2 separate regions of the Homo sapiens genome follow, and region 2 is linked to region 1. Evidence: fine-mapped expression QTL. A gene starts in region 1. The other region holds a variant in brackets. All regions are shown on one strand. Distances are from middle to middle.

Region 1 (16,237 bases):
GGAATTTGTGACCAGCCTGGCCACCGTGGTGAAACCCCATCTCTACTAAAAATACAAAAATTAGCTGGGCATGGTGGCGCATGCCTGTAATCTCAGCTACTCAGGAGGCTGAGGCAGGAGAATTGCTTGAACCCAGGAGGCAGAGGTTGCAGCGAGCCAAGACCACACCACTGCACTCCAGCCTGGGCAACAGAGTGAGACTCCGTTTTTTTTTTTTTTTATGTTTCGATAGATTGGGAAAGCTAAAGAAACTCCCATACACACCTTGGTACCACCAATCAACTTAAACATGACATCCTCAGAGAGACAGTCTCAGATCATCCAATTAGCACCTTCTATTATTTATTTACTTCCTAGACACTTGTCGAAATCTGAAAATTCTTTATTCGTTGGTTTGTCTATATTGACAGACTGTAACTGGATGAAGGCAAGAGACCTTGTCTTGTACATAGTTGTGTCCTCAGCACTTGGCAGAATGTCTAGATGGAGCAGGTGCTTAAATACTTGTTGAAAAAATAAAAACTGCAACTGCAGGGGTTTTTAAATATATAAACATAAAAATATTACTCATCAAAATTTAAGTAATATAGCTAAAGCTATGCTCAGAGGAACATTCAATAGGATTACATTTTTTCATTATAAAACATAAAATATTATAAAAGTTGCAATTTTTTTAAGTTAAAAAATTCAAAACTGGCCAGGCACAGTGGGTCACGCCTGTAATCCCAGCACTTTGGGAGGCCGAGGTGGGTAGATCACCTGAGGTCAGGGGTTCGAGACCAGCTTGGCCAACACGATGAAACCCTATCTCTACTAAAAACACAAAAATTAGCCAGGTGTGGTGGCACACCCCTGTAATCCCAACTACTCAGAAGGCTGAGGCATGAGAATCACTTGAACCTGGAGACAAAGGCTGCAGTGAGCCAAGATCATGCCATCACACTCCAGCCTGGGCAACAGAGTAAGACTCTGTCTCCAAAAAAAAAAAAAAAAAAAAAAAAATCAAAACCAAAACTAATTTGAAGCCCCAAAAGAATAAACTAAAAAATCTGAGGACTAACAAAGCAACAACCAAAAAAGGGGGATGGGGGGGAGACTTAAACAATAACAGAAACACACTTGTTTACAAAATGAAAATACCATGCCCCATGTATACAAGTGTACACTGGTACCAAATCATTGATATTTCAATAAAACCTAAAAAGAACCAAGAAGATGTGCATTTAACATATGATAAAGGCAGCTTTATTTCAAGGCAACAAGTTGTTTTTTTTTTTAGTGGGGCCAAAATTTTTAAGGAAAAATAAGGGAGGTTATTTCACTTCACATATGTCAAAATAAATCCCAGATGAACAGAAAAAGACAGATGTGAAATATGAAACCGTAAAAGAACTAGAAGAAAACTTAACTGGGTAGGAGAAGCCTTTAAATATAAAAGCAAAGTAGAAGCCATAAAAGAAAGTATTAACCTAATTTTCTTAAAAAGTAAAAACCCTTGCCTGTTTTTTTGTTTTGTTAAAAAAAAAAAAAAAAAAAAGGGGGAGAGAGAGAGAGCAAGAGAAAAGACAACACTGTTAGGTAAATGAAGAGCCAGGAAAAATATTTGCATGCCAGGCCCAGTGGCTCATACCTGTAATCCCAGCACTTAGGGAGGCCAAGGCAGGTAAATTGCTTGAGCCCAGGAGTTTGAAACCATTCTGGGCAACATGGTAAAACCCCATCTCCACAAAAAATTGCCAGGCATGGTGGGGAACGCCTGTAATCCCAGTTACACAGGAGGCTGAGGCGGGATAATCACTTCAGCCCAGGAAGTAGAGGCCTCAGTGAACCATGACTGCACCACTGCCCTCTATCCTGGGTGATAGAGCAAGACCGTGTCTCAAAAAACATTTTAAAAAACCCAAACATACGTGTGTGTGTGTGTGTGTGTGTATGTATACATGTGTATATATATTTGTGTGTATATGTATATTTGCAGTATATAGCAGAGTTGCTATCCTAAATCCTAAAAATATAAAAAGTTTAAAAGGGTATCACAAATATAAAACACCAGCCAAAATGGGCAAAAGATAAACTAGAAGATGTCCAATATCCAGGTTTATTTACCATCATAATTAATTAAAGAAATATATGATGATTCCTATAGAAAGGGAAGGAAAGATGGAGGGTAGATGGATAGACAGATAATGCTGGTAAAGATATACAAGAAATGTGTATTCTGTCATATTTTTAGTCAAATTTGATATTAAAGTTTGATGTTAGTCAAACTTTTAAGGACAAAATTTGGCAATATTTATGAAAAGACTTTAAGAAATGTTCATATGCTTTGATTCAGTGATTGTAAGACAGACTAGATCCGAAAGAAACAATGACAAATACATAGTAGTAGCTCTTATATTTATCACACTACTTATAATAATAAGAAAAAAATAATAAACTTAAGTTACACCCAACAGATAACTAGGTTATAGTACTTTTATAAGATGGAACTGTCCATGTGGGTAACCACTAGTCATATGTGGCTACCGAGCACTTGAAATGTGGCCAGTCTGGGTCAGACATGGTGGCTCACGCCTGTAATCCCAGCACTTTGGGAGGCCAAGGCAGGCAGATCATTTGAGGCCAGGAGTTCAAGACCAGCCTGGCCAACATGGTGAAACGCGGTCTCTACTAAAAACATAAAAATTTAGGCCGGGTGCAGTGGCTCACACCTGTAACCCTAGCATTTTGGGAGGCCTAGGCAGGTGGATCACCTGAGGTCAGGAGTTTGAGACCAGGCTGGCCAACATGCTGAAACCCCCTCTCTACTAAAAATACAAAAATTAGCTGGGTGTAGTGGCATGCACCTGTAGTCCCAGCTACTGGGGAGAGGCTGAGGCAGGAGAATCGCTTGAACCCAGGTTGCTGTGAGCCGAGATTGTGCCACTGCACTCTAGCCTGTATAACAGAGTAAGATTCCGTCTCAAAAAAAAAAAAAAAAATTAGCTGGGCGTGGTGGTGCATGTCTGTAGTCTCAGCTACTCGGGAGGCTGAGGAACAAGAATCACTTCAACCTAGGAGACAGAGGTTGCGGTGAGCTGAGATCGCACCGTTGCACTCCAGCCTGGGAGACAGAGCAAGACTCTGTCTCAAAAAAAATACAAAAAAAGAAATGTAGCTAGTCTGAATTGAGATGTACTTTAAGTGGAAAATACACACCAAATTATAAAGACAGTCTAAAAAAAGACAACTATCCCATCAACAATTTCTTATACTGATTACATGTTGAAATAATAGTTTTTGGGTTACATAAAACGTATTTTCACCAGTTTCTCTTTTTTTCATAATGTGGCTACCAGAAAATTTTAAATTACTTAATGTAGCTCCCATTTGTGACTAACGTTGTATTTCTAGTGGACTTTGCTGGTCTGAGGTATATAAGCCACAGTAAGAGGTTTCAATTTTATTTGGTATATTGAAAAGCTACTGGGAGGTTTTGAGTCAGAGAGTAAGATACTGTAATTTACAAATTTACACATTTAAATGAAGCAGAAGAGTAGAAAAGTTGAAGCAATGGTAACAGATGACTTCTATTATCATCTTATATGAAATAAGATGGTGAGGCAGATTACATTTCGGTAAGTTCTTAAGAAAGAGCCAGGCTGAGAGTGTTTAGAATGGACTCTTAATAGTTTAGGATATTAAGAATACACACATAAAGACCAGGGGTATACCTGACAAAATGTTAATAATAGTTATCTATCATGGTGTTATAGGTGGCTTTTCTTAGTAACTTTCTATTCTTTCTCAAGTTTGAGGGGGAAAACCCCATATACACATTGTCCTTATAATTAAATAAAAAATAAGGTTTTTAAAAGCAGAATACAGCCCTACCAAAACAAAGCATCCTGATATTTGTCTGCAAGCTACATATAGAAAAAATGAAACCATCTCTACTCCCATGCCTTCAAACAAAAAGGTTATTCAAAATTACATGTAAATTCACACTTACATACATGAATGAAACATGAAACACATAAAAACACACCTATCTTCAGGATAGTAAGGAGATACTATTCCCTAATTTGTCGCTGTGTTCCTGTTAGCATAATGAAACAGATCCTCGGGAAACACACCTTGTGGGCATTCTCTAATCTAAAACATATTTAAATATGGAGTTAACAAATCCTGAACCACCACACAACTTTTCCAAAAATGTTCCAAAGGATACAAAATTTAATTCCACAGAATAACACCTTGGTCCTAATGCTTTCCCTTAAAGGGTGTGACATTTGACAGGTGTTTTCCTTAATTAAAGTCTGTGCAAAAGTGGAAGGATAAGCTTAGGACAAGTTTCTTTTACATGAGTATGCTAAGGCACAAGAGAAATTTTTAAGTAATTTGCTAGAGATTAGAGGGGAGGAGAGGAACAGCAGAAAGGATAATTTATTTTACATACAATCCAGCGTTTTTTCTACTATACTATTTTTGCATTGAAAAGGAGATACCAAACAGTGCCAGACTTTTTACAATGTGACTTCAAAGTAAGAGAGTCATTACACATAGGTTAACAGGAATTTTGGGTTTTCATGCAAATGTTCAACTAGGTTGAACTAGTTCAATCACTACGGCTATGAATCTTCTATTTAAACATAATAGAGAATCCTAATGTTTTTCATTCATCTTATTTCTAAGTAATTCAATCTATTCTAGTCCTGATTACCTAATACCGTCTAATGCAATCCACATTAAGTATTTACTCTAGAGAAATTCTTGTACTTGTGTACCAAGAGCCGGAAACAAGAAATGTTCACAGAGCAAGACTGCTTATAACAAAACAAAATAAAAAACAATAAAAACACGGTCGAAGTGCCCATAAGTTATGGCAGATTAACATATCATAAAGCAATGAAATAAACTACAGCCACATACTATTTTTATAAAGCTCAAAAGAAAAACAAATTAAATGCCACACAGTTTCGGCATACAAACATATATGATAAAACTATTTTTCAAAAAGTCAAGGAAGTGACATACACAAAATCCACTGCACAGATAAGAAACTCATAGACAAATGCAAGTTTTAGTAATGTTCCAGTTTTGGGTTTGGGGGGAGTCATCAAGGATTTATGATGTTTTTATCTGCTTATACTTTACCGTGTTTTTTTTTGGTAGTATTAAATATATTTTGGTTACTTCTTAAAAACGTTACTGACATATAGTTGACAATAAACTGCACATATTTGAAGTGTAAAACGTGTAAGTTCTGACATATGCATACACCCAAAAAGTTATCACTACAAGATAATAAATCCACCGACCCCTGTATTTTCTCCTGCACATTTGTGATGTCTCCCTTTAAACACATTTTAAAACGTAAAAAAGTAAAAATAAAAAAGACAACTTGTTTTGGAAAGCTAAACGTGCATATTTTGCAAAACATTTCCCCTAGGGCTCTGGAGAAACTATACACAACTCAGAAAGTGCCTTAAAATTGGTGACATGGTTACCGAACAACTAACCTTAAAAGTTTATGGTATTTTACACTTTTAAAAAATCAAATTCCGATTTCGGTTTGAAAGAGGAATTTAATCCTGTTTCTCGGAGCTTCAAAATCATTAATTCTGCCCGGCTTTTTTTTGAGACGGAGTCTCCCTCTGTCGCCAGGCTGGAGTGCAGTAGCGCGATCTTGGTTCACTGCAACCTCCGCCTCCCGGGTTCAAGCGATGCTCCTGCCTCAGCCTCCCAGTAGCTGGGACTACCGGCGCCCGCCACCACACCCAGCTAATTTTTGTATTTTTAGTAAAGACAGGGTTTCACCATGTTGGCCAGGATGGTCTCGATCTCCTGACCTCGTGATTAGTCCGCGTCGGCCTCCCAAAGTGCTGGGATTACAGGCGTTGAGTCACCGCGCGTGGCCAATTCTGCCCAGTTTTTATGGCCCAACAACTTAATATAAATTATCTTTAGGTAACCCCAAGGTCCTAACTTCCTCACAACTGGTTACAACTTCCGAGATGTGAAGGTAAATCATAGCGTCCCAACTGTGTAGGATAGTTAGCACGTGACTTAAAAACCAAGTTAAAAAGATTTCAAACACAATATTCTTTCATACTTTTTTAGGTAGCTAAAACTTAAATATAACTATTTCAAAAAAGCAGACAAAAAATTTAGAATCCTAAGCAAGCTAAACCCAAGCAGGAAAAAAAGAGACCAATTCCCTTCCCGGTGCCAGTCAGGAGTTGGAGACACCGGGCTGCCTCCGGCTGGTTTCTGAAAAACGCCGCAGGTGGAAAAACATCCCGAAGAGGACCTGAGACTCGGAGGAGGCGGGGAACTGACGCGCCCCAGTGTGCCCGGGGCCCTTCCGACCCCCGCCAGCCAACCGCTCGCAACCCGCTCGGGGCGGCGCGCGTCGCGGCCTCCGCGGCCCTGAAGAACTGAGGCTCCCGACCCCAGCGCGACCACCCTGACAGGAAGCGGCCCCCGGCCGCGGGCGCCCGCGCGCCGTCTGAGGTGAACCCGCCGATCTCCGGCCCCCACCCCCGGAGCCGGGAGTCCTCGCCCTCTCGCCCGCGGCCCCCGCGGGCCCACCACCTGCTGCGCCGGCCGGCCGCCCTCCGCTTCCGGCTCTCGGGCGCCGGGAGGGGCCGGGGGCGGGCCTCGCCTAGCTGCAGCCGGGTGGGGGAAGGGAGCAGGCGGGGGAGGGGCAGCGCCGGGCAAGCCGGGCCCCGCGGGCCGCGCTCCTCACCTGGCGGCGGGTCTCTCCGCCTGACACGCTGCGCGCCGCCGCCGGTAGCCGCCGGTGAATGGGTACAGGTAATGCCGCCGAACCCCTGCTTGCTCCGGCTCCGCCACCGCCGGCCCCTCCGTCCGCTGTTTATTAAACTTTTCTGTTTGGTTGTTCGGCCTATGACGCGACCGCGGAGGAGAGCCACTGGATTGGCCGGCTCCCGCGGCTGACGCGCGGGCCCCGCCCGCCCGCTAATTATTACCGGCGCGGGCGGGGCCGCAGGCCGGAGGAGGCGGGGAGAGGCGGGGTCAAGGCTCGGAGCGCACGGCAATTGGCCGGAGGCAGGAAAAGAGGCGGGGCGGAGCGAAAGGAGATGCTCCTCCGCCTTCTGCACCTCCAGTGTCCCTTGCTCCACTGCCCTCTCTGGGGCGCTTCCCGCCGCGGTTTCTCTACCTCCAATAGCTACGGGAAGGCGATTAAGAGGTGCCGCGGAGACTTTAAGGGCTTGGTTATGTAGGTTCAGGTACCTTTGCCACCTCGCAGGGAATGGCGTGTCCCTGTCTTGGACTGAGGCACCAAAAAGAGTTGCACTCCACCTGCCACTTGTGCAGGAAGGAATTCTGAGCTTCTGTCTTCCCATGCAGGCCGGCGCCTCAGTCTGCAAGCGCAAAGTCCGAGCTCAGGGCGCATACTGGAAAGCAGTTCTCTGCCCTGTCCTGAACTGGGACTTGGAAATAGAAGCAAGACGAGAAGCGTGCATGCACACGTGTGCAATACATACATGCACAGGCACAAGCACCCCCAGTTCCAGCCTGTTCCAAAAGCACGGGGTCAGTTCCCACCTGCGTGGTGCACGCTGGGCTGCTGCGCTGGAACTAGGGGTGATAGGCAGAATGGCTCCCCCTGAAGTTTTTCAGCCTTCGTTCGGGCTCACGAGCATCACGAGCAGGAAGTACGTGACACTTTAGTTCGAGGTCATTCAATCCTATTGTGAATGAGGAGTTCCGTTAGGGCATCCAGGTAGGCGAGCCCAGTCCTGAGAATCCTCTTTATTTTAAATGTTGGTATTTTGTTATTCATGGATTTTTTTTTTGCATTAATTTTAATTTTAAAAAATAAAAATGTTATTCATCTTGATCACTTAGTTTTTTGGTGCTCCCTTAAATGTTGTGCCTGAAGTGAGTACCTGTTGAGCATTTAGCAACACAGAAGTCACCTTGGGGAGTACAGTTTAAGTGGAGGACAAAAGCCTGATTGGAATGGTAATAAAACCTACTTGTTAGGCTATTTGTGGGGGTTAAATAACATAATATGTGTGAAAGAGCTTCTTGAACTAGCAAGGTTATGCGTCAAGTCTTACGGATTTTGTCTTAAATGTATTTTTCTTCCGATTCTTGTCCAGTTTATCGTTGTATTAACTCCAGCACCTAACCCAGTTGGATTTTCATATGCAGTTATTATGAATTTGCAGAAATTGGGTTTACATGACCTTTACTGCTTTCCTTTGTTCCAGATTCGTTCTGGGAGATTGAGAGATTATAGTATTGCATTGTGACGTGGAATGCAGACAGACCACTGTCACTTACTAGCTTTGTGCTCTTAAGAAAATTGTGTGAAATGGGAACGAAAACCTACCACAAAGGATTGTTATGAGGGTTAAAAGATACTGCATTTCTATTCACCCAGTAAATGCTATATGCCGACTCTCTGCCAGCCTGTGCTGTAGGTGCTGGAGACAGCATTAAGAAAGATGAAGGCCCTTCTCTCATTGACTTACACAGGGGAAGAGAGGGAGCAGAAACAATAAACAGTATACATACGCAACCTACCGGTCAGTGTACATAAACAACATATTCACAGCACCTGGTATGTAACAGATGCTCAATAAATGATTGTGTATGCATTATTATTTCCAGCCCCATCTTCTTTCCTGTGTTCCAGAGCAGGACATTCACTGTGTGCTTATCACAGCCATTCAATATGTCCAAGGCTTATTTTCCCCCAAACACATTCTTCCTCCTGTAGTCCCAATTTTGGCTAATGGTGACACCATGTTTCCAGTTATTAAAGCTAGAAACTCAAGCTTTATTGAGATTTAACACACATATCATTACAACTTACCCATTTTTAAAGAATACAATTTGCTGGGCGCGGTGACACATGCCGGTGGTCCCAGCTACTCAGGAGGGTGAGCTGGGAGAATTGCTCGAGTCCAGGAGTTCTGGGCAGTAGTGCACTGTACCCACTGGTGTCCACAGAGGGTGGGGGGCACCATCAAGTTGCCTAAGAAAGAGGACTCTGCCCAGGTCCAAAACAGAGCAGGTCAAAACTCCTGTGCTGATTAGTAATGGGATCATGGCCATTGCACTCCAGCCTGGGCAACATAGCAAGACTCTGTCTCCTATTAAAGAAAAAACAAAAAGAAAAATGAAAGAAATTATACAATTCAGTGGTTTTTAGTATATTCACAGTGGTGCAGTTATCACCACAAATCAGTTTCAGAACATTTTGTCACCCTATAAAGAAACCTTGGCAGGGTGCAGTGGCTCATGCCTGTAAATACCAGGGTTTTGGGAGGCCGAGGCAGGTGGATCACTTGAGGTCAGGTGTTAGAGAACAGACTGGTCAACACAGTGAAACCCTGTCTCTACTAAAAATACAAAAATTAGCCAGCCTTGGTGGTGCACACCTGTAGTCCCGGCTGCTTGGGAGGCTGAGGCAGGAGAATCACTTGAACCCGGCAGGCGGAGGTGGCAATGAGCCGAGATCACGCCACTGCACTCCAGCCTGGGTGACAGAGCAAGACTCCATCTCAAAAAAAAACAAAAAACAAAAAAACAACCTTGTACCTATTAGCAGTCACATTCCCCTTTCCCCCAATCCATGGCCCACCTCCACCCCTAGGCAACCATTAAGCTACTGTGTGTCCCTTAAGTTTTGCAAGTGATCCTTTGGCCTCAGCCTCCTGAGTAGCTGGGTCTATGGGTGCAAACTACCATGCCTGGCTAGTTTTGCCTGTTTTGGACATTTCATAAATATGTAGTCATATAATATGTGGTCTTTTGAGACTGGCTACTTTCACTTAGCATAAGGTTTTCAAAGTTCATCGTGTTGTAGTATGTATCAGCACTTTATTTCCTTTTATTGCTGAATATTTCACTGTATTAATATTTAATATAACACATTTATTCATTAATTTATAGACATTTGGGTTGTTGTCCACTTTTTGCCCATTATGTGAATAGTGCTCCTGTTCACATTTTTATCCAAGTTCTTATAGGGACTTTTTTTTTTAACAGATGAGGTCTCACTCTGTCACCCTGGTGAGGGTGTGGTAGCATGAACATAGCTCACTGACACCTCAACTACTGGACTCAAACCATCCTCCCACCTCAGCCTCCCAAGTAGCTGGGACTACGGGTATGCACCACCATGCCCAGCTAATTTTTTTTATTTTTTGTAGAGATGGGGTTTCACTATGTTGCCCAGGCTGGTCTCAAACTCCTGGGCTTAAGCAGTCCTCCCAGCTTGGCCTCTCAAAGTGCTGAGATTACAGGTGTACCACGCCCAGCCTGTTTTTATTTGTCTTGGGTATCTACCTAGGAGTAGGTAGACACTGCGTCATATGGTAACTCTGTTTAGCCATTTGAGGAACTGCCAGACTGTTTTCCATAGAGACTACACCATTTTACATAACCACCAGCAATGAGTGAGAGTTTCAGTTTCTCCACATCTTTGCCAACATTTGTTATAATCAGTCTTCTTGATTATAACTACCCTAGTGAGTATGAAGTGGTGTATCACTGTGGTTTTGCTTTGCATTGCCCTAATGGCTAATGATGTTGAGCATCTTTTCATGTGTTTATTGGCCATTTGGGTATCTTCTTTGAAGTAATGTCTATTCAGATCTTTGCCCATTTTTTAATTGGGTTGTTTGTCTTTTTATTGTTGGTCATAAGAGTTCTTACATGTTCTAGATACAAGTCCCTTTTCAGATATGTAACTTGCAAATATTTTCTCCCATTTTGCATATTGTCTTTTCACTTGCTTGATGATATCATTTGAAGTATAAAAGTTCTTTAATTTTTGCTCTTTTTTTTCTTTTTTTTTTTTGTGATGGAGTCTCTCTCTGTCGCCAAGCTGGAGTGCAGTGGTGCAATCTTGGCTCACTGCAACCTCCGCCTCCCAGGTTCAAGTGATTCTCCTGCCTCAGCCTCCTGAGTAGCTGGGACTACAGGCGCCTGCCACCACACTCAGCTAATTTTTGTATTTTTAGTAGAGACGGGGCTTCACCATGTTGGCCAGGCTGGTCTCAATCTCTTGACCTCATGATCCGCTCGTCTCGGCCGCCCGAAGTGCTGGGATTACAGGCGTGAGCCACCGCACCTGGCCTCATTTTTTTTTCCTTAAGCCCTCCTCTCCCCAATATCCAATTCGTCATGAATTTCACTGATTCTGCCTTAGAAATATCTTTGGAATGCACCCCCACCACCACTGCCCTATACAACTCCCTTGTTATTTCTCACCTGAATTTAAGTAATAGCCTCCAATTCTATTCTCTTTTCTACATCCCCCCACATCCTACCCGATTTATCTTCCAACCGCTTCCAGAAGGATCTTCCTGAAACACAAAATGAGCAGGTCAGACCTCTTTTGGTTCCTCGTCTCTGCTGTAGCAGTTCTCACATTCCTCTGATAAGAATACCTTGAGCATTTAAAAAATTCACATTGCAGGTCATAATCTGGACACAATAAATAAGAATCTCTAGGGGAGGAGTCTGGAAATCTAGTTTTAATAACCCCCCAGGTGATTCTTATTCTCAGAATGGTTTGGCCTAGGACAATGGTTCTAAAGGAGGGGGTGGGATTTTGTCCCCCACAGGACATTTGGCAATGTCTGCAGACATTTTTGGTTGTCACAACTGGGTGGAGCTGTCACTGTCATCTAGTGGCAGCAGGAATGCTGCTAAGCATCCTGTAATGCACAGGGCAGCCCCCCTCAACAAAGAATTACCAGCCTCGGCCAGGCGCGGTGGCTTAATGCCTGTAATCCCAGCACTTTGGGAGGCCGAGGCGGGCGGGCAGATCGTGAGGTCAGGAGATTGAGACCATCCTGGCTAACACGGTGAAACCCATCTCTACTAAAAATACAAAAAAAAAAAAAAAAAAAAAAAAAATTAGCCGGGCGTGGTGGTGGGCGCCTGTAGTCCCAGCTACTCGGGAGGCTGAGGCAGGAGAATGGCGTGAACCCGGGAGGCGGAGCTTGCAGTGAGCCGAGATCGCACCACTGCACTCCAGCCTGGGCGAGAGAGTGAGACTCCGTCTCAAAACAAACAAAAAAAGAATTATCAGCCTCAAATGTCAATCATGTCATGTTGAGAAACCCTGGTCCAGGAGATAAAATACATACTTCTGCATTTGAGGCCAGGCAGTTAGTCCCCAACTCTATCAAGTGTCTGTTGCTCCGTAAGAAACACCCCAAACCTAGTGGCTTAAAACAACAATTTATTATCTCTCTTGATTCTGTGGGTGGACTGGGCAATCCTGCTGCTAGTGTTGCCTGGACTCTCTCATGGAGAAGCTGTAGGTGACAGATGAGCTGTGATGGCTGTTTAGCTGGGGCCTCTCTTCCCTCATAGTCTTTCAGAGCACAGCACTTTCAGGAATACAGGAGCATGAGCCTGGTCTTCCTTGGAAGTCGTATGATGACACTTCTGCTATATTGTATGAAAGAATGATATAAGACTGACCTAGATTCAAGGGGTAGGGAGATAAATTCTATCTTTTGAAACAGGGAGCTTGCAAAGAATTGATGGTTTTAATCCACTTTTCCAATTTACCTTTTCAAAACTATCTCCAAGGGCACACCCACTTCTAACATAACCCCAGGGAAGGATAGGACCAAAACAGAATTTGAAGCTCTGGTTAATGGGGAAGGAGCTACTTTTAGAAAAACTTCTCATGGACTTGACTTCTGTTAATAGTGTTTCCTCTAATAGCTTTTCATCAGAGTCTAAATCAAAGTTCTCAAACTTTTGGTTTCGCAGGCCCTCCTTAATGTTTGGCTCAGCACAAGACTGCTTGATTGAGTCTCCTATTTTCCTCTACATTTTTTTTTTTTACACGAAGTCTTGCTCTGTTGCCCAGGCTGGAGTGCAGTGGCGCGACCTCGGCTCACTGCAACCTCCGCCTCCAGGGTTCAAGCGATTCTCCTGCCTCAGCCTCCCAAGTAGCCGGGACTACAGGCATGTACCACCACGCCCGGCTAATTTTTTGTATTTTTAGTAGAGACAGGGTTTCACCGTGTTAGCCAGGATGGTGTCAATCTCTAGACCTCGTGATCCGCCTACCTCAGCCTCCCAAAGTGCTGAGATGACAGGCATAAGCCACCGCACCGGGCCTCTACATTTTATCGGTTACAATATCACACATCAGGTAGCCTCTAGAAAACTCCACTGTACACTCATGACAAAGAGAAATAATGACCTAACATTACAATGAAAATAATTTTGACCTTGCAGACCCTCTAAAAGGATCTCAAGGGCCTCCAGAGGTTCATGGATCACACTTTGAGGACTGCTGGTCTAAACTACCATCAGGTTGACACGGTGTCTTAAAATTGTTGAAAGAGTACTACACTTGTAGTAGGCGTTCAGGCAAGCAGCTCCCTCAACTCATGGACATGCTTCTGCCCACCTCCTTCTATTCATTACATTCAGGATGCTGGGCCTTTTTATGACCTCATCCTTGTACGGGTATTCTCTCTTATCCCTATCAAACTCCCACTCATCCCTCAAAACCCAGTATAAATGCCTGCTCATTGGTCAAGGCTGTCTTGATTCCTCTAGCCATAATTAGGACGCCCCTCTTCTGTGTTTCACACACTTTATTCTTCCTTCTGCAATAGTAGTTCCCTTGTTAAACTGAAATTTGTCAGTCCAGCCTAGGCAACATAGCAAGATATCCTCTCTACTAAAAGTTAAAAAAAAAATTAGCCAGGCGTGGCAGCACATGCCTTACTCAGGAAGCTGAGTTAGAAAGATCACTTGACCTCAGGAGTTTAGGTTACAGCGAGCTGTGATTGTGCCTCTATACTCCAGCCTGGGTAATAGAGCAAGACTCTGTCTCAAAAAAAAAAAAAGAAAGAAAAGGAAAAGAAAGAATGAGATTTGTTTGCCTCTTCCCTAGTTAGACTAGAAACTTGTTTTTCTGAAGTTTGATTAAAAAAAAAATTGGTATATTATAAGCATGTAAATTGTTCCATTTCCAAGTCTCTAACCAATTGTTCTTTTGCTTTTGTTTTATTTTGAGACAAAGCCTCTCTCTGTGACCCAGGCTTGAGTGCAGTGGTGCAGTTTCGGCTCACCACAACCTTGGCCTCCTGTGTTCAAGCAATTCTCGTGCCTCAGTCTCCCAAGTAGCTGGGACTACAGGCACGTGCTACCACGCCCAGCTAATTTTTATATTTTTAGTAGAGACAGGGTTTCGCCATGTTGGCAAGGCTGGTCTTGATCTCTTTACCTCATGATGCACCCATCTCGGCCTCCCAAAGTGCTGGGATTACAGGCCACTGCACCCGGCCATCTCTAATCAATTGTTCTAACAAATATATCAACTCTCCTTTTCCCCATGGTTTTGTGTGAGGCCTTCTTTAGCATATGTCAACTTTTTATACATAATAAATTCTAGATCTGAGTTTTTCCACTATTCTTGCTATTTTTGCTTCAACAGCGTGTTTTTATTCAAGACCCATGACATTTTAATCTCATTGCTATATAATATGCTTTAGTGTCTACTAGAGCTTGTCTTTTTACTATCCATTGCTCTTTTTCTGAATTTTGTTTGAAAATCTGATCTGTTTATGCCTCTAGGTTAACTCTAGAATAATTTAATCAGTTGTTTAAGAAATATCCTGCCAAGATTTGAATTGGAATTGCATTTGCCAAAAACAATTTGGGGGAGCAGGGAGAAATATTTTCATCTTCACAGTATCTGGATGGCCCATTAAGAAATCTGCTGTCGGGCCAGGCACGGTGGCTCACGCCTGTAATCCCAGCACTTTGGGAGGCCGAGGCAGGCGGATCACGAGGTCAGGAGATCGAGACCAAACCTGCTAACACAGTGAAACCCCGTCTCTACTAAAAATACAAAAAAAATTAGCCAGGCATGGTGGCAGGTGCCTGTAGTTCCAGCTACTCTGGAGGCTGAGGCAGGAGAATGCCATGAACCTGGGAGGCGGAGGTTGCAGTGAGCCGAGATCGCGCCACTGCACTCCAGCCTGGGCGACAGAGACAGACTCTGTCTCAAAAAAAAGAAAAAAAGAAAAAAAGAAATCTGCTGTCTTTTTTCCTCATTTGTTCAGCTTTTAAAAAAAACATTTCTCATATTTTTGTTTCCTTAACTTAACAGTGAAATATTAAAGAGAAATGCTTATGAGCATTATTTTTTTGTTAATAATTCACTTATGATTTGTTGAAACTGTGGATGAAATTTTTTTATATTTTCAAGCTAGTCATTGATAATATATTACAACGCTATTTAATTCTGTATATCTATTGTATACCTAACCACTAAACTGGTTAGAAAAAAATATATATATATATAGTGTATGTGTGTATATATATATATATAGTGTATGTATATATATATATAGTGTGTGTGTATATATATATATATAGTGTATGTATATATATATATATATATATATATATATATATATATATTTTTTTTTTTTTTTTTTTTTTTTTTTGAGACAGTCTTGCTTTGTCTCCCAGGCTGGAGTGCAGTGGCACAATCATAGCTCACTGCAGCCTCAACCTCCTGGGCTCAAGCAACCCTCCAACCTCAGCCTCCCAGGTAGTTGGGACTACAGGTGCACAACACCATGCCTAGCTAATTGTAAAATTTTTTGTAGAGACGGGCTACCACTGTTTTGCCCAGGCTGGTCTCAAACTCCTGGGCTCAAGCAAATCCTCTTGCTTCAAACTCCCAAGGTACTGGAATTACAGATGTATATCACCACACCCCATCCTTAAAAAATATTTTAAATAATTTTTCAGTTGATTGCTTTGTTTTTGTGTGTTTGTATGTTTGTTTGTTTGTTTTTTGAGACAGAGTCTTGCTCTGTCGCCCAGGCTGGAGTGCAGTGGCACGATCTCAGCTCACTGCAACCTCCACCTCTCTGGTTCAAGCAATTCCCCTGCCTCAACCTCCCGAGTAGCTGGGATTACAGGCGCACCCCACCATGTCCCGCTTTTTTTTTTGTATTTTTAGTAGAGACCGGGTTTCACCATGGTGACCAGACTGTTCTCAAACTCCTGACCTCAGGCCATCCGCCTGCCTTGGCCTCTCAAAGTGCTAGGATTACAGGCACCCAGCCTGCTTTGTTTTTTGTTAATATAACTAAAATAGTATTTTCTCTTTTTCTTTAAAATATTTATATTTTTATTTATGTTTCATGTCTTACTGATGTAGCCAGAATTTTAAAGCAAAATTAAATAATATTGATATTATTGATATGACAAT
Region 2 (16,237 bases), 91 kb before region 1:
AAAAGATGACCATTTCTCCACGCATGTCAGCTCTTGGAATCGGGGTAGACCAGAGCCATACTCCTCATCTGAGGTCCCAGCAGAGCCTACCCTAGAAGAGGCTGCCTGGAGAGCTTAGTTACTCATTCTCAGCCCCACTGCCAACTCCCTGGGCCTCAGTCTTCCCCTCCTGAAAATGGCAAATCTGCTTTAGGCAAAGAGCTGAACCACCTGAATCCAAGTGGCTTTCCATTCAGGGAATGTGCAGGGCAGACCCTTGGACCACATCTCTGACCCTGGTCCCCACACCCCAGCTGAAGGCAAGAAGGAGTCACCACCAGTAAGCAACTTCCAAAATGGGGTCACAAGTGCAGCTGCCTGCTGCCTCAAATGCAAACAAAGCCTAGAAGCTTCAAACTTGTGCTTCAAACTATGACCTGAGGACCCAGAAAAAGTCTGAGAGAGTGAGTCCCTCTACTTTCAACCTTGGGAGTTATTTTCTTCAGCACAAAACTAGAGGGGGCTCACAGGTCAGATCCAGGATTCCTGGGCTCCAAGTCTGCTCCCTCATTCACCATCTTATCACCTTGGACAAGTCTCTGGGCCTCAGTTTCCCATCTGCAACTTGAGGGAAACAAACTAAGGAGGGAGACCGCATTTGTCTAACTTCAAGAGAATGAATGTGCATTGCCTTTGTTTTAAAATAGTTGGTCATATCTGATATAAAGTTGTCCAAAGGAAAGCATTACCCAACTCCCAGCCTGACATAGAGGGGGAAGCATGGGATTGGTGTGGGCGAAGGATTACCCAGGTGCCGAGGCAAGAGACTGAAGGCATAAACTGTAGCTATACTGCTATACAGTTGTAATACAAATTAGATATACAGATGATCATGGACAATTATCGATTATTAGTATAAACATTATTAATCATTAGTTTTTAATATTACTCTTTATTGTAGTACAATATAACCTAGGAATAACCGGTGGGTATAGGGTCAGGTACTGAAGGGACATTCTGAGAAGTGACCTAGAAGGCAAGAGGTGAGCCCTGTCACACCCGCATAAGGGCCGCTTGAGCGCTCCTTGGTCAAGCGGTAACGCCAGTGCCTGGGAAGGCACCCATTACTTAGCAGACCGCAAAAGGGAGTCTCCCTTTCCTTGGAGGAGTCAGGGAACACTCTGCTCCACCAGCTTCCTGTAGGAGGCTGGATATTATCCAGGCCTGCCCGCAGTCATCTGGAGGCCTAAACCCCTCCCTGTGGTGCTGTGCTTCAATGGTCACGCTCCTTGTCCACTTTCATGTTCCTCCTGTACTCCTGGTTCCTCTTTGAAGTTTGTAGTAGATAGCGGTAGAAGAAATAGCGAAAGTCTTAAAGTCTTTGATCTTTCTTATAAGTGCATAGAAGAAAATGCTGACTTATGCTGCCTTCCCTCTCTGCTTCGGCTACCTTAGAGGGAAGAGCCCCCGTCCCATGATCACATGACTTGCTTGACCTTATCAATCACTTGGATGACTCACCCTCCCTACCCTGCCCCCCTTGTCTTGTGTGCAATAAATATCAGTGTGCCCAGCCATTCGGGGCCACTACCGGTCTCTGTGTCTCAGTGGTAGCAGTGCCCCGGGCCCAGCTGTTCTCTCTTTATCTCTTTGTCTTGTGTCTTTATTTCTTACAATCTCTCGTTTCCGCACACAGGGAGAAAACCCGCTAAGCCCCGTAGGGCTGGACCTTACAGATTGGGAGGCTGACAGATGTGGGGATCAACCCCATATCTGCCTCTTACTGGCTGTGAGATCTGGAGCATGATGCTTTGCCTCTCTGGACCTCAGTTTCCTCATCTGTAGAATGGGGACAATAACTTCACAGTAGGTTTATTGTGAGAATTTAATTAATATCTGTAAATCTCTCACCACAAGAACAGACACAGGGTAGACGCTATTCATGCCACAAAGATTTAGAGAGCATCTTCTCAGTACCAGCATTACACAAAGGCTGCTGAGGCCCTGGGAACAGTGACGTGGTTCCTTCTCTCCAGAAGCAAAAGGAAACACAGGGTGTGGTGAGAGATAACCAAGGCTGGGCCGCAGCGGGGAGCTCATTCAGAGAGGGTGCTTAGGAGGTGACATTTAAGCTGAGTCCCAAAGAGTGAGAAGGGGCCAAGCATATAGAGAGCAGAAGGACGAGTATTCCAGGCAGAAGGAACAACATGTGCTAAGGCCTGAAGGCAGGAAGCTGCTCTTAGCACATCTCAGAGACTCAAAGGCAGCCAATGTGGCTGGAGAAAGCAGAGGCCAGGAGGCAGCAGCACAGCCAGACCACGGGGACTTTAACAAGGCACCCGGCAAAACCAGCTCCACACTACTACAACCCCGTTCTCAGAGGCCACCACCCCTACCTTCACAGAGAGCACCCCTGTACACCTTACTAGTCCATCAACCAGAAATGGAAGGAAGGCGTCTCCTGTGTCTTTGATGCCAACTCGGAGCCCAGGCAAAATCTGGACCAGAGTTGGGGTTCATAAGCATTCGCTGAATAAAAAAAAATGAATAAAGTGATGGCAGGATTCATTGTTATTCCACTCAAATTAGGAAAGGCTGACTGCTGACATGGGGGAAGGGAGGTTTTGCCTTGGCAACTAGTCTTGCCTGGCAAGGCAGCCATCACGGTTGGAATGTCCAATGCCTGCAGAGAAAGCTTCAGAAGAGGCTTGTTCAGCTGGAAGGCCAAAGGGCCAACTCTCCACCCCCAGCACTGTATCAGAGGACAGCGGAATGGGGCTCTCTCTTCCAGACATCTGTAGTGGCTGCCCTGCACATTCTGATGTTGAAACAGCGGGACATGGTGTCTGAAAACACCTAGCCACACTCTAACGGATATTAATTCGATTCCCCTGAGAAAGCAAGTCAGAGCTCCCTACTGGGGTGTGCCTGCCTCTCACAAATGTTTCTGTCTAATGGATTTGTGCTCCCAGGAAAGGTGAGGGAGGACACATCTGCCGAGGGCAAAGTGTTTGAGGAGGGCAGAGGGAGGGCTCTGTCTGCAGAAAGGTTGTTGGCCATCACAAGTTAAGATTTAATGTGCCTCAGATTGTGTCCTCCAGGGGATTGAGTGTCCACTTTCTGTATCCTTGCAACATCTGGTCAGCCCGGCCAGATGTGAAACCACAAGTTGACTCTTCTAGACCAAAGCACTTACCGCAGACAGGCCCACAAAAGGCCAGCCACTTGCATCCAATGACAAGCCATGGGGGAAGGAGGGAACCCCACTTTCCAAGAAGAAGCCAACTGCCAGGCCCCTCGTTTAGCAAACATTTCCTGATTCTGGGGTTCTATGGCTTACAGAGATGAATCAGGAGTTTACCTTTAAAGTTGGGAGCAGAAATCTAAGCCAAAAATATCATCAACAAATCCAAGGGAATCTGCTTTTCCAACCTAGGGAACCTCTTATTATCTATTTGCTGATAAACCCCCAGTTTTCAAATACTTCTTTCTACCAATCAGACTACACTGACTTAGTCAAAGTTTGTTTCCCTGCCCTCTTTCTTCTGATCAGTAGGGGAATGCCAGGGAGCCCACACCAGGAGCTGAAAGAATTTCAGCTATAGGCAGAGACACTTGCCATCTTAGATCTCACAACTCTAAGCCAAGAAACGCGCGTGCCCCTCTGACCTGCTACGCATACCGGGTTATCATTTCCCGGGTTCTAGGGTTAGGGGCTATCCAGCGAGATGAACCACCAGCCCTGACCTGGCCTCTTGGGCGAGAGAAACACACCGCAACCACCTCGGAGTAGGCAGCATGCCTGTGTGCTGCAGCTTCCGGTAACAGAATCCTGCTTGCTCTGCTTGTCTGGGAGAGTGACACGATTCATTTCATTTTGCATTTAATTCTCAGCAAACCTGCGGACAATGAGGCTGAAAAGTTAAACAACGTGCACAGCTAGAAAGTTACGAGGCGGGACTCGAGCCCATAGGCACTCTCACGGAACGAATCTTAAGAGAAAAATGGCACAAGCCTCCATCCCGCCCCTCATTCCACTCCATTCCACTCCACTCCACTCCACTCCACTCCACTCCACTCCACTCCCTCCCCGCGCCCGGACGCCAAAGCCCCACTGCTCACGTCGCCTCTGGTCGAGAAGACGCCGTAGGGCAGGTTGTGGATGGGGAAGTCGGAATCCTCGGCCACCGGGATGAAGGACATGCTGAAGAGCACCCGGCACGGCTGCGGGCCTAAGGTGGCGTGCGGAGAGCAGGACTGAACTCGGCCGCTGTGGTCAGGCCCGGCCCCGCCCCCCTGCCCGCCCCCACGGCCTGTCCGGGTGACACAGCAGGGACCCCGGAGGCTCCTACCTGACTTTTGGTCTCACCGTGAACACCCCGCCCCCGAACCCCGAGCCCTGCCCCTCCCCCCTACCCTGACCCCCGCCAGCTCCAGGTCCTCCACAGTCTCGCCCGCCCTTCCAGAGCCCCGCCCCGCCCCTGGCCCCGCCCCCGTGGGCCTCAGGTCCTCCAGTCTCTCCTCCCTCCCTGAGCCCCGCCCCTCCCCTTGCCCCGACCCCGCGAGCCCCAGGTCCTCCACAGTCTCACCCTCCCTCCCTGAGCCCCGCCCCTCCCCTCGCCCCGCCCCTCCCCTCGCCCCGCCTTGCAAGCCCCAGGTCATCCAGTCTCTCCCTCCCTCCCTGAGCCCCGCCCCTCCCCTGGCCCGGGTACCCGAGAGTCCCAGGCCCTCCAGTCTTGCCTCACTCCCCGAGCCCCGCCCCTCCCCTGGCCCCGCCCCCGTCCTGATCCCCGCCCTGTCCGCGAGTCCACGTGGGGGAGATCTGGTTCCAGCCCCCGCTCGGGGCAGCTAGCTGGTCCTACCGAGAGCAAACCCCAGCTTAGCATTTAAGGCTCTGCCCTGCATGACTCCAGCCTCGCTCGCCCCGGCTGCTGCCCTGCTCTTCAGCTCAACAGAACTCTTGTCCGCTTCCTGGAAACACTTTCTCCCCAAGAGCTGCTCCCTGAGCTTCAGAAGAACACCCAGTCGCGTCCTTTCTGCCTTCATACCATGATGCTCCGTCCAGCTATGACACTTCCACTTGTATGTCAGAGAAGGGGACAGTTAGGCCTGTTTGGAAGGCTTCAATTAATGAGAATTAATATTCTAAAAAATATAACTCACCTGTTTCACATGCCAGTAGTAAAATGACGTTGACAAGATGCTCAACCTTGGACAAGTTACTTAAACTTTCTCTACCTCAGCTTCCTTCTCTGTATAATGTTGATGATAATAGTTCCTACTTCACAAAGTTGATATAAGAATGGAATGAATTAATATTTGTGAAGCACCTAGAATAGTGCCTGGCATATACAGGTTATGTGTGTGTGGAAAGAGAGAGAAGGGAGGGAAAAAGAGGAAAGGAGGGGAGGGGGATAAAGGAAAGGAAAGATAAAAGAGAAATAGGAGAAGAGAGAGAGGGAGAAAGAAAAGAAGGAAGACAGGAAAGAAGGGAAAGGCAGACTATCTTAGGGTGGGTTCAAGGTGTTATCTAATCACTCATGTGCAGTCAGCTGCAGTTTTTTGAGACCATGCCACAGCCAGGACACTTGGAACACACCGGAGAGTGTGTCGTTGTGTTATTGTTGGTGTGAATGATTCAGGTACACTTTTAAACAGCCAGGATGCCGGCTGAAATCTAGAAAAGTAGACGATAGTCTGGGCAAGGGTTCCCTGAAGATCCTTGAGGAATGTGACACAGTGACTGCTGAGTTAGGGAGGCTGCTCCGCATTTCAGCTTAGGGAGAAGAGGCTGGAAGATGGCAGGATAATGTGAGCTAAGTGGGCTTGAAACCAGACGGCTTGAGAGGAGCGAGTACGGCAAGCAGGGCCCGCTGTTGAGCCCCCCTTCCTAGCCCCTGAGATCACTCTGGTGCCTGTCCACCAGGCGTGACCAGTGATCATCACCCAGTAAGGAGTGTAATCTGGGCACAGCCTCTTGGCTCTCATCTCCTGCCCTGAGTGGCTCTGCCAAGGACTGGCTTCAGTTCTTTTAAGTCAGCCCTGGGGAGGGAATGAAGGTGGTCTGATTTGTTCTGGTAGGTTCCTGAAAGAGGAAAAGAAGAGGAGAGTATCCCAACTTGGTGGCCTTATAAAGAGGCATTCCAGGGAGCACTTGATACCTGCCTAATTCAAGCTAGTCCTCAGCTGCAACGCAATGAATTATTTCCACGTTCTGTAGTTGCCCTGCCCCTTCCCATTAAAACCACGAGCTTTCTTATTCCATGTGCAACTCTGTCAATACCCAGCAAAACACCTGGCACAGAATAGGTTCTCCATAAATACATGTCATTAATATAAAACTGTTGACCAAAAGGAAATGAAGCAATAACTAATAAGCCCATGCCCTATGCCAGGCCATGGGGATACACCAGCAACTCACATCTTTAATTCCTGTTTTTATGGAGCATGTGTTGTGTGGGGGATGCTAGGCCAGGAGCTTCTACTGAATACATACAAGTTAACAAAAGCCTAAATGATAAAACCCTTGGAGAAAGAAAACCAAAGTATTTTAGGGAAAGGACATGGGGCAGATGTATGTGTAGGAAAGGGTGTGGGGATGAGATGGCTAAAGAGGGAGTAAGATTTCATAGTTTTAAAATAGACTTAACCAACCCACTAATTATACACAGTGTCTGAAAACGCCAAAGCTGTTCTCTATTTGGAAAACAGCATTTGAAATAACTTGCAAGTATACTATATTTTTTCTTTCTCATTTTTTGGAAGAGAATGTGTTGGCCACGTATATCACAACAATTATTTAAAAAGAATTTTAAAACAAAGAGATTGCCCATAATCCCACCAATGTAGTCTTCTCATTTTCATGTTTTTTTTTCATTCCATTTGTATGCACATGGCTTTTCCATCCTTATAAACTTTACATAGATGCAATTTTTCAGTCTTTCCCTACCTTATTCTCTTGAATATTTTTCCTTGAGGCCCAATAGGCTTTATTATGATCATTGTCATTAGCTAAGGAAGTCGCAATGTTTTAGATGGTAATAATAACGGTTCAATGAAGAGGTGCATGCACAGAATGTTTTCCTTTTCCTTGACAATTATCTAAGGAAGATTCCTGACTCAAAGAGTATGAACACTTTCAGGACTCGCAGTGAGTTTCAGCATCTCCAGCAATGAAGGCTGGTTTGGGTCTCTGTAGCACCATATTTAATGCCTCCCTCTGATGCTAAAAAGCAACACACTGCACTGCAGCCCTCATTCACACAAAGCATGTCCCTCACTCCTTTACAAGAGAGCTGAGAGA[G/C]AACTTTCCAGATCCAGGACACTAATGTCTTGCAACGGCTCTGAGAAGCTGGCAGTTGCCATTCAGATAAGCAAGGTGTGGACGCTGCCTGCACTGGGAAGCAGGATGGGGTGGCCTTTTTTGCAACATTCAGCACTGCTGCATGGTCGTCAAGAAAAAGAGGAAACTATGTCAAAGGCCAAGCACTTTAGCAAAGTAAGTGTCCTCTCTTTTTCAGGTCTGAGCTCAGTGATGTTTATGGTACACATTTTGTAGTGGGCATCATGGGTTTGGCATGTGTCCAGTACATTTTAGTATCAAGAATATATGTCATGTGCAAATATACATGACATTCTGTCCTCTCAAAGGAGTTCAAAATTTAGAGGATCTTGGAACTGAACGTAAGTAATTCAAGTGCAAGTGCATGTTGTAGGGTGGGGAGAAGGGGATTGGATGAAGTCCTAGGTGAACCAGCTCAACCAGGGCTAGGTTTTCTGCAATATAAATTTTCTTCTTCCTGCCCTCTTTAATTCTGTCTTTAGTCTGTTTCAGGTACTATTGTGTCTATGTTCTGATGGAATACTACCTCAAATCCATTTTGGATTTAAGCTGGATTTGCAAGACTCACAAATAACAAGCAGCACCTTAAATAAAGAACATGTCATTGCCATCTGACTTAATAATGTGTACCATATAATGAGTTCTCTGTTACCATTATCAAAGCAGGAGCCACTTTTTAGACTCTCCCTCACTGTTATTTCAACAAAATACTTCTAATTTTGTTTTGTTTTCTTATAACTAAATACATATTCAATAGTTTTCCCATCTGAATTATCCCTTTTTTCCCATCCAAATGTTCGGTGCCTTTTTGAGCTATAGCTGTGGATCCCACTCTGCTCCCAGAAATACAGAGGAATGTTGACACATAAGTTACAACCTCTGTATTCAACCTGTTTGGCACAGCTGAATAGATCATTCTCAGTGCCTCTCTCTGCAAACATTGTTTAGTTTGTCAACAATAAATCCACACTAAAATTTCCCTGTCTCTCTTTCGCTCTCTCTTTCTCTCTCTCTCTCTCTCTCTCTGTCACACACACACACACACACACACACACACACACACACACACTAAAGTTGGTTAGGCATGATTTTTCCTTGTGGCCCTTTCCCTAGATGTTGAACAAAAGGAAACAGTATGTGGTAACAGAATATATATGTCTGTTGTTGTTGTTGTTGGTTTGTTTTTTGTTATGTTTTGTTTTGTTTTGTTTTGTTTTGTTTTGAGACAAAGTCTCGCTCTGTTGCCCAGGCTGGAGTGCAGTAGCACGATCTCGGTTCACGGCAACCTCCACCTCCCAGGTTCAAGTGATTCTCCTGCCTCAGCCTCCCAACTAGCTGGGATTACAGGCTCACACCACCACACCTGGCTAATTTTTGTATTTTTGGTAGAGATGGGGTTTCACCATGTTGGTCAGGCTCGTCTTGAACTCCTGACCTCGTGATCTGCCCACCTCAGCCTCCCAAGTTGCTGGGATTACAGGCGTGAGCCCCTGCACCCAGCTGTAAGAATATATATGTTAAGGTTTCAAATAAGAAAGATTTGAAATCTCTTTCTAGAACGTTCATATTGAGTTTGGGTTTAGGTTACTGTACCTCACCAAATCTTAATTTCATGCATTGGAAAAATGAAATAATAAAAACGATACCTGCCTTGTAAGGTTGTTTAGAAGATCAAATAAGAAAACCCCTGCAAAAACTCTCAGCATATTGTGGGACACACAGAAAGTTCTCAATAAATGTCAGCAATCCTGTTTTCCTCTTCCTTACCTCCCCATCACTAATGTACATAAAAGTATAACATGCAACATGAGAAGTAGATTGACTCTGTCTAAGAACATCCTGTGTGAGAGCATTCTGTCCTGCCCTCCCTCCTCACCAGGATTCTGATTGTTGTTGTCAGATGTGTTCCACATCTCAGCGGCTGTCTGGGACAACACCTGGAGAATTCTTTTTTACTTTTTTAGCTGACAAATAAAAATTATACATATTTATCATGTAAAACATGTCATTCTGAAATAGGTACACATTGCACAATGGCTAAGTTGAGCTACTTAACATAAACATTACCTCACTTTTCATTTTTTTTGTCCTGAGAACATTTGAAATCTACTCTCTTGGCAATTTTCAAGAATATAATAAGGCCAGGCGTGGTGGCTCACGCCTGTAATCCCAGCACTTTGGGAGGCCAAGGCGGGTGGATCACAAAGTCAGGAGATCGAGACCATCCTTGCTAACACGGTGAAACCCCCTCTCTACTAAAAATACAAAGATTAGCTGGGTGTGGTGGCACGTGCCTGTAGTCCCAGCTACTCGGGAGGCTGAGGCAGGAGAATCACTTGAACCCGGGAGGTGGAGGTTGCAGTGAGCTGAGATTGCGCCACCGCACTCCAGCCTGGGCAACAGAGCAAGACTCAGTTGGACTAAAAAAAAAAAAAATACGGTTATTAATTATAGTCAGCATATTTTCCAATAGATCTCTTGAACTTATTCCTCCTATCTGAAATTTTGTGGGCTTTAACCAATATCTCCCCAACCTCCCAGCCCTTACCCCCTGGTAACCATCATTCTATTCTACTTCTGACTTCAACTTTTTCTGGGATTCCACATGTAAGTGAGATCATGCAGTATTTGTTGTTCTGCATCTGGCTTATTTCATTTAATATAATGTCTTCCAGCTTCATCCATGTTGTCATAAATGACAGGATTTCTTTTTATGGCTGAATAGTATTCCATTGTGTATACAAACCTTTTGTTTATCCATTCATCTGCTGATGGACACTCAGTTTGATTTCATATCTTGGCTATTGTGAATAATGCTACAATGAACATGGAGGTGCAGGTATCTCTATGACATACTGATTTCATATCCTTTGGATATATACTTAGCAGAGGGATTGCTGAATTATATGGTGGCGCTAGTTTTAATTTTTTGAGGAACCCCTATGTTGTCCATAATGGCGGTACTAATTTACATTCCCACCAACAAAGTACAAGGGTTCCCTGTTTTCCACAGCCTCTGCAATACTTGCTGTCTTTTGTTTTTTTGATAATAGCCATTCTAACAGGTGTGAGATGATATCTCATCGTGGTTTTATTTTGCATTTTTCTGATAATGATGTTGAGCATTTTTTCACATACCTGTTGGCCATTTTTATGTCTTTTGGGAAATGTCTATTCATATCCATTACTCATTTTTTAAGAATTAGGTTACTTGTTTTCTTGCTATTGAGTTGTTTGACTTCATTATTTATTTTAGATTCTAATTCCATATCAGATGTGTGGTTTGCAAATGTTTTCTCCCACTTCCTAGGTTTTTTCTTGTCGATTGTTTCCTTGGCTATACAGAAGCTTTTTAGCCTGATATAATCGCATCTGTCTGTATTTGCTTTTGTTGCCTGTGCTTTTGGGTTCATATCCAAAAAATCATTGCCCAGACCAATGACATGGAGCTTTTCCCATTTTCTTCTAGTTTTACAGTTTCATTTCTTAAGTTTACGTTTTTAATCCATTTTGAGTTGATTTTTATATATGGTGTGAGATAAGGGTCTAATTTCATTCTTCCACATGTGGATATCCAATTTTCCCAACATCATTTATTGAAGAGACTGTCCTTTCCCCATCACGTATTCTCAGCACTTTTGTGAAAAATCAACTGGCTGTAAATCTGTGGATTTATTCCTGGGCTCTCTATTCTGTTCAATATGTCTGTTATTATGCCAGCACCATGTTGTTTTGATTACTATAGCTATATAGTAGATTCATTTTGTTTTGTTTTGCTTTGCTTTAGAGACAGGGTTTTGCTCTGTTCTCTGGCTGGAATTCAGTGATATGATCACGGCTCACTGCAGCCTCAACCTCCCAGTGGCTCAAGTGATCCTCCCACCTTAGTCTTCTGCATAGCTGGGACTATAGGCATCTGCCACCATGCCTGGCCAATATTTAAAAAAAAAATGTAGAGATGGAGTCTAGCTATGTTGTGTAGGCTGGTCTCAAACTCCTGGGCTCAAGTGATCCTCCTGCCTCAGCCTCCCGAAGTGCTGGAATTACAGGCATGAGCCACCACATCTGGCTGCTTTGTAGTAGATGTTGAAGTCAGATAGTGTGATGCCTCCAGCTTTGTTCTTTTTGCTCAAGAGTGCTTTAGCTATTCAGCGTCTTTTGCAGTTCCATACATGTTTTAGGATTTGTTTGTTTGTTTCTGTGAAAAATATCGTTACAATTTTGACAGGGATTCCATTGAATTTGTAGATTGCTTTGGGTAGTATGGACATTTTAACAATATTAAGTCTTCCAATCTATGAACATGGGATATCTTTTATGTTGTTTTTTTTTTTTTTGAGACGGAGTTTCGCTCTTGTTGTCTGTCCAAGCTGGAGTGCAGTGGCGCGATCTTTGCTCACCGCAACCTCCACCTCCCAGGTTCAAGCGATTCTCCTGCCTCAGCCTCCAGAGTAGCTGGGATTACAGGCATGCGCCACCACGCCTGGCTAATTTTGTATTTTTAGTAGAGACAGGGTTTCTCCATGTTGGCAGGGTGGTTTCGAACTCCCAACTCAGGTGATCTGTCTGCCTCGGCCTCCCAAAGTGCTGGAATTACAGGCTTGAGCCACCGCGCCTGGCCATATCTTTTCATTTATTTCTGTTTTCTTCAATTTCTTTCATTGATGTTTTCTAGTTATCAGTGTACAGGTCCTTCACCTCCTTGGTTAAATTTATTCCCAAGTGTTTTGTTTGGTTGGGGGTTTTTTGGTAGCTATTGTAAATGAGATTGTTTTCTTAATTTCCAAAAATCCCTTCTGCTACTTCTATTCATCCCCTGGACCGCTGGCAGCCACTTATCTCTTTACTGTCTCTGTAGTCTTGACTTTTCCAGAATGTCATATAATTGGAATCATATAGTATGTAGCTTTTAAGATTGGGTTCTTTCACTTAGCGATATGCATTAAGATTCTTCTATGTCTTTTCCTGCCCTGAAAGTTCCTTTCTATTTTTGTTGAATACTGTTTCACTGTATAAATGTTCCACAGTTTGTTTGTTCACCTATTGAAGGACATCTTGGTTGCTCCCAATTTTTGGCAATTAAGGATAAAGCTGCTAAAATGTCAGTGTGCAAGTTTTTGTGTGGACACTTTTGCTTTTTAACCAAGTATACTTTATTAAATCATTAAAAAAAATTTTTAGAAATGGGGTCTCACTATGTTGCCCAGACCAAACTCAAACTCCTGGCCTCAAGTGACTCTCCTACCTCAGCCTCCTGAGTAGCTGAGGCTGCAGGCTTTTTTTTTTTTAATTGCTATCAGTGTATCTTCTTTGATATCTATTCAGATATTTTGCCCATTTTTAGGTTGGACTGTTTTCATACAATTAAGCTTTTAAGAGTTTTTTGTATATGTTAAATGAAAGCCCTTTATGTGTTTTGCTAATTTTTTCCAAGTCTGTGGCTTGTCTTTTAATTTTCTTAACAGCAGCTTCTGCAGAGCAGTTTTTAACTTTAACAGAGTCCAAGTCATCAATAATTTTTCTTTCCCAAGTTATGCTTTTAGTGTTTTACTTAGAAAAATCGAAACCAAACCTTGAATTTCTTATATTCTAAGTTTTACATTTTTGTGTTTTACATTTATGTCTATGATAAATTTTGAGTTAACTTTTGTGAAAGGTTCAAGGTGTCTAGATTGACTTTTTTTGCATGTAAATGTACAGCTGATCACTACTGCTTGAAAAAGTATTCCTATGAAAAAGACTTTCTCCATGAATTGTCTTCTCTTCTTTGTCAAAGATCAGTTGACTATATTTGTATTGGTTTATTTCTGGGCTCTCTGATATATTCTGCAAATACCAGTCTTTATTATGGGAGCTTTATAGTAGGTGTTTAAGTTGGGTAGCATCAGTCTTTGTTCTTCAGTATCGCATTGGCCATTTTGGGCCTTTGCCCCTCCACATAAACTTTAGAATTACTTTGTTGCTATCCACAAAATAACATGCTAGGATTTTGACTGAAATCACATTGAGCTTATAGACTAACGTGGGAAGAACTGACAATATTGAGTCTTCCTAGCACTGAAATGAAAGCTATTTATTGAAATGATCTTTGATTTCCTTGATTAGTTTTGTCATCTTCTTCACATAGATCTTGTCATATTTTATTAGATTTATACCTAAGCATTCCCTCTTGTTGGGGCTAATGTGAATGGTGTTTTTGTTTGTTTGTTTTTTGTTTTTTTGAGATGGAGTCTCATTCTGTCGCCAGGCTGGAGTGCAGTGGCATGATCTCGGCTCACTGCAACCTCCACCTCCTGGATTCAAGTGATTCTTTTGCCACAGCCTCCCAAGTAGCTGGGACTATAGGCACACATGCCACCACGCCCAGCTGATTTTTTGTATTTTTAGAAGAGACAGGGTTTCACCATCTTGGCCAGGATGGTCTTGATCTCTTGATCTCGTGATCCACCTGCCTCGGCCTCCCAAAGTGCAGGGATTACAGTCGTGAGCCACTGCACCTGGTGTGAATGGTGTTTTTAATTTTAAATTTAAATTTTTCATTGCTGGTATATAGCAAAGCAATTGGCTTTTGTATTATATATTCACCTTTTTTTTTGTATTAACCTTTTATCCTGCAATCTTACTATAACTGCTTATAAGTTTCAAGAGTCTTTACGTAGATTCTTTGATTTCATTCCAGATGTTAACATCTTTCATTGGTTACATTCTGTCTCCCATCTCCACATTCTGACTTTCTATTCTACTGGCCTTCTGAATTAATCTTGATGCTTATGTGTTAATAAAAAGAAGGGAAAATGGCCAGGAAGCCAGTCTCTGAAAAGACACCACAACAAAGTATCCTTTCCTAAATTCCCAATAATATCTGTTTAGATGTTGCTGGGAACAGGTCCCCCAAATCTGGCCATAAACAGGCCATGAGAAACTGGCCATAAACAAATCTCTACAGCACTGTGACATGCTTGTGATGGCTATGACACCCACGCTGGAGGTTGCTGGTTTACTGGAATGAGGGCAAGGAACACCTGGCCCACCCAGGGCAGAAAACCGCTCAAGGCGTACCTAAACCACAAACAATAGCATGAGCGATCTATGCCTTAAGGACATGTTCCAGCTGCGGATAACAAGCCAGAGCCTGTCCCTTTGTTTCCCATAAGGAAGGCTTTTAGCTAATCTATAATCTATAGAAATAATTCTCATCACTGGCTTGCTGTCAATAAATATGCAGGTCAAACTCTGTTTAGGGTTCTCAGCTCTGAAGGCTGTCAGCCCCCTGATTCCCACTCTGCACTCTGTGTCTTTGTCTTAATTCCTCTAGCGCCACTGGGTTAGGGTCTCCATGACCGAGCTGGTCTTGGTAAGATGTTCTGGAAACTATGAGAAAGGGGAAGTATAGCCATTGTTAGTTTAGTAAAAACTGTTTTCACATTAGAAAATACACGGCTTTTGAGTTGTGCTTGAAGTAAAGGAATGATTTCAAGACTGCACTGTGCAGTACAAGTTAGCATTGTAGGATAACTAGGGGAGAGGACACTTTGCACCAGACTTGAGCACAAACATCCCAGAAAAATTAGTATGGAAGACTGAAGTACGAGAAAACTCTTGATTAACAGTGTATTTAGGTGTAGTGAAACTGGAAGACTGTGAATGTTTGTTTTTTATGTGTGACAATTTTAAAAAGAAATACAAATTGAATGCTGAGGCTGATTCAACACCTTTCCTTGCATAACCTTCAAGTTCTAAAATGTGATCATCAAAACAGCTTTATAATTAACTTTCTGCTTTTGATACTTTGGACTTCCGGTACAGAATATTGGATTAATCATAATCCCTGGTTCAAGACACTCTCAGCATTGGTTCATACATGGCCTCTTTTAGTTTCCTAATATAAGCATCCTGACTCTACTAACCCCAAGAAAGCTGGAGCTTTGACCATATAGTACCACTTACTAGCGCATCCCTTGCCACCTCTCATCTAAGGGCATTGTTCTGAATTTTTTCATCATCATTATCCTGCTTTCTTTTCACATAAAATCTATTGGCTGGGCGCGGTGACTCACGCCTGTAATTCCAGCACTTTGGGAGACCGAGGAGGGCAGATCACCTGAGGTCGGGAGTTCGAGACCAGCCTGACCAACATGGTGAAACACCGTCTCTACTAAAAACACAAAATTAGCTGGGCGTGGTGGCAGATGCCTATAATCCCAGCTACTCGGGAGGCTGAGGCAGGAGAAATTGCTTGAACCCAGGAGGCGGAGGTTGCCGTGAGCTGAGATTGTGCCATTGCACTCCAGCCTGGGCAACAAGAGCAAAACTCCGTTTTACTAAAAAAAAAAAAAATCGGCCGGGCGCGGTGGCTCATGCCTGTAATCCCAGCACTTTGGGAGGCCGAGGCGGGCAGATCTCAAGGTCAGGAGATCCAGACCATCCTGGCTAACATGTTGAAACCCTGTCTCCACTAAAAATACGAAAAAAAAAAAAGTCTCCGGGCGTGGTGGCAGGCGCCTGTAGTCCCAGCTACTCCGGAGGCTGTGGCAGGAGAATGGCGTGAACCCGGGAGGCAGAGCTTGCAGTGAGCCGAGATCGCGCCACTGCACTCCAGCCTGGGCAACAGAACAAGGCTCCGTCTCGGGGGAGGGGGGGGAACCTATTACATGCGAATGTATTTTAAAGTGTTTATAGGTGAGCATGTTGCATATTTTGAGACTAGTTTTGCTTACTATACTGCACTTCTTCCTGTATTTCTAAAGCTTACTATACTGGAAGACTTTTTTGCATAATATGCTTCTATTTTGTTGTGTCACTATGGATCAGCAGTTTTGGTTACAGTGTATTATTCCAGTGTATGAATATATCACATTATATTCATCCACTCTTCTTCACTGGGGATTTGAAGACTTGTTTCTGGGCTTTTGCTTC

Direction of the effects. Positions count from the first base shown, and alleles are read on the strand shown. Sizes are in standard deviations (SD) of each study's normalised expression.
With allele G in place of C in region 2, the expression in prostate of the gene that starts at base 6,864 in region 1 is lower (small effect, 0.35 SD a copy in GTEx).

The links.
Region 2: its variant is fine-mapped to the expression of ZFAND6 in prostate (GTEx, PIP 0.92).

Annotation. Positions count from the first base shown.
Region 1 is chr15:80,050,303-80,066,539 of GRCh38, reverse strand. ZFAND6 (zinc finger AN1-type containing 6) reads right to left here and starts at 6,864. Exons shown (of 7, transcript NM_019006.4): 1 at 6,731-6,864. RefSeq lists silencers at 6,292-7,161, 6,858-7,186.
Region 2 is chr15:80,141,000-80,157,236 of GRCh38, reverse strand. FAH (fumarylacetoacetate hydrolase) reads right to left here and starts at 4,238. Exons shown (of 14, transcript NM_000137.4): 1 at 4,102-4,238. The coding sequence starts at 4,182. RefSeq lists a silencer at 4,250-4,809. The variant G/C (reference allele first, on the strand shown) is at 7,283.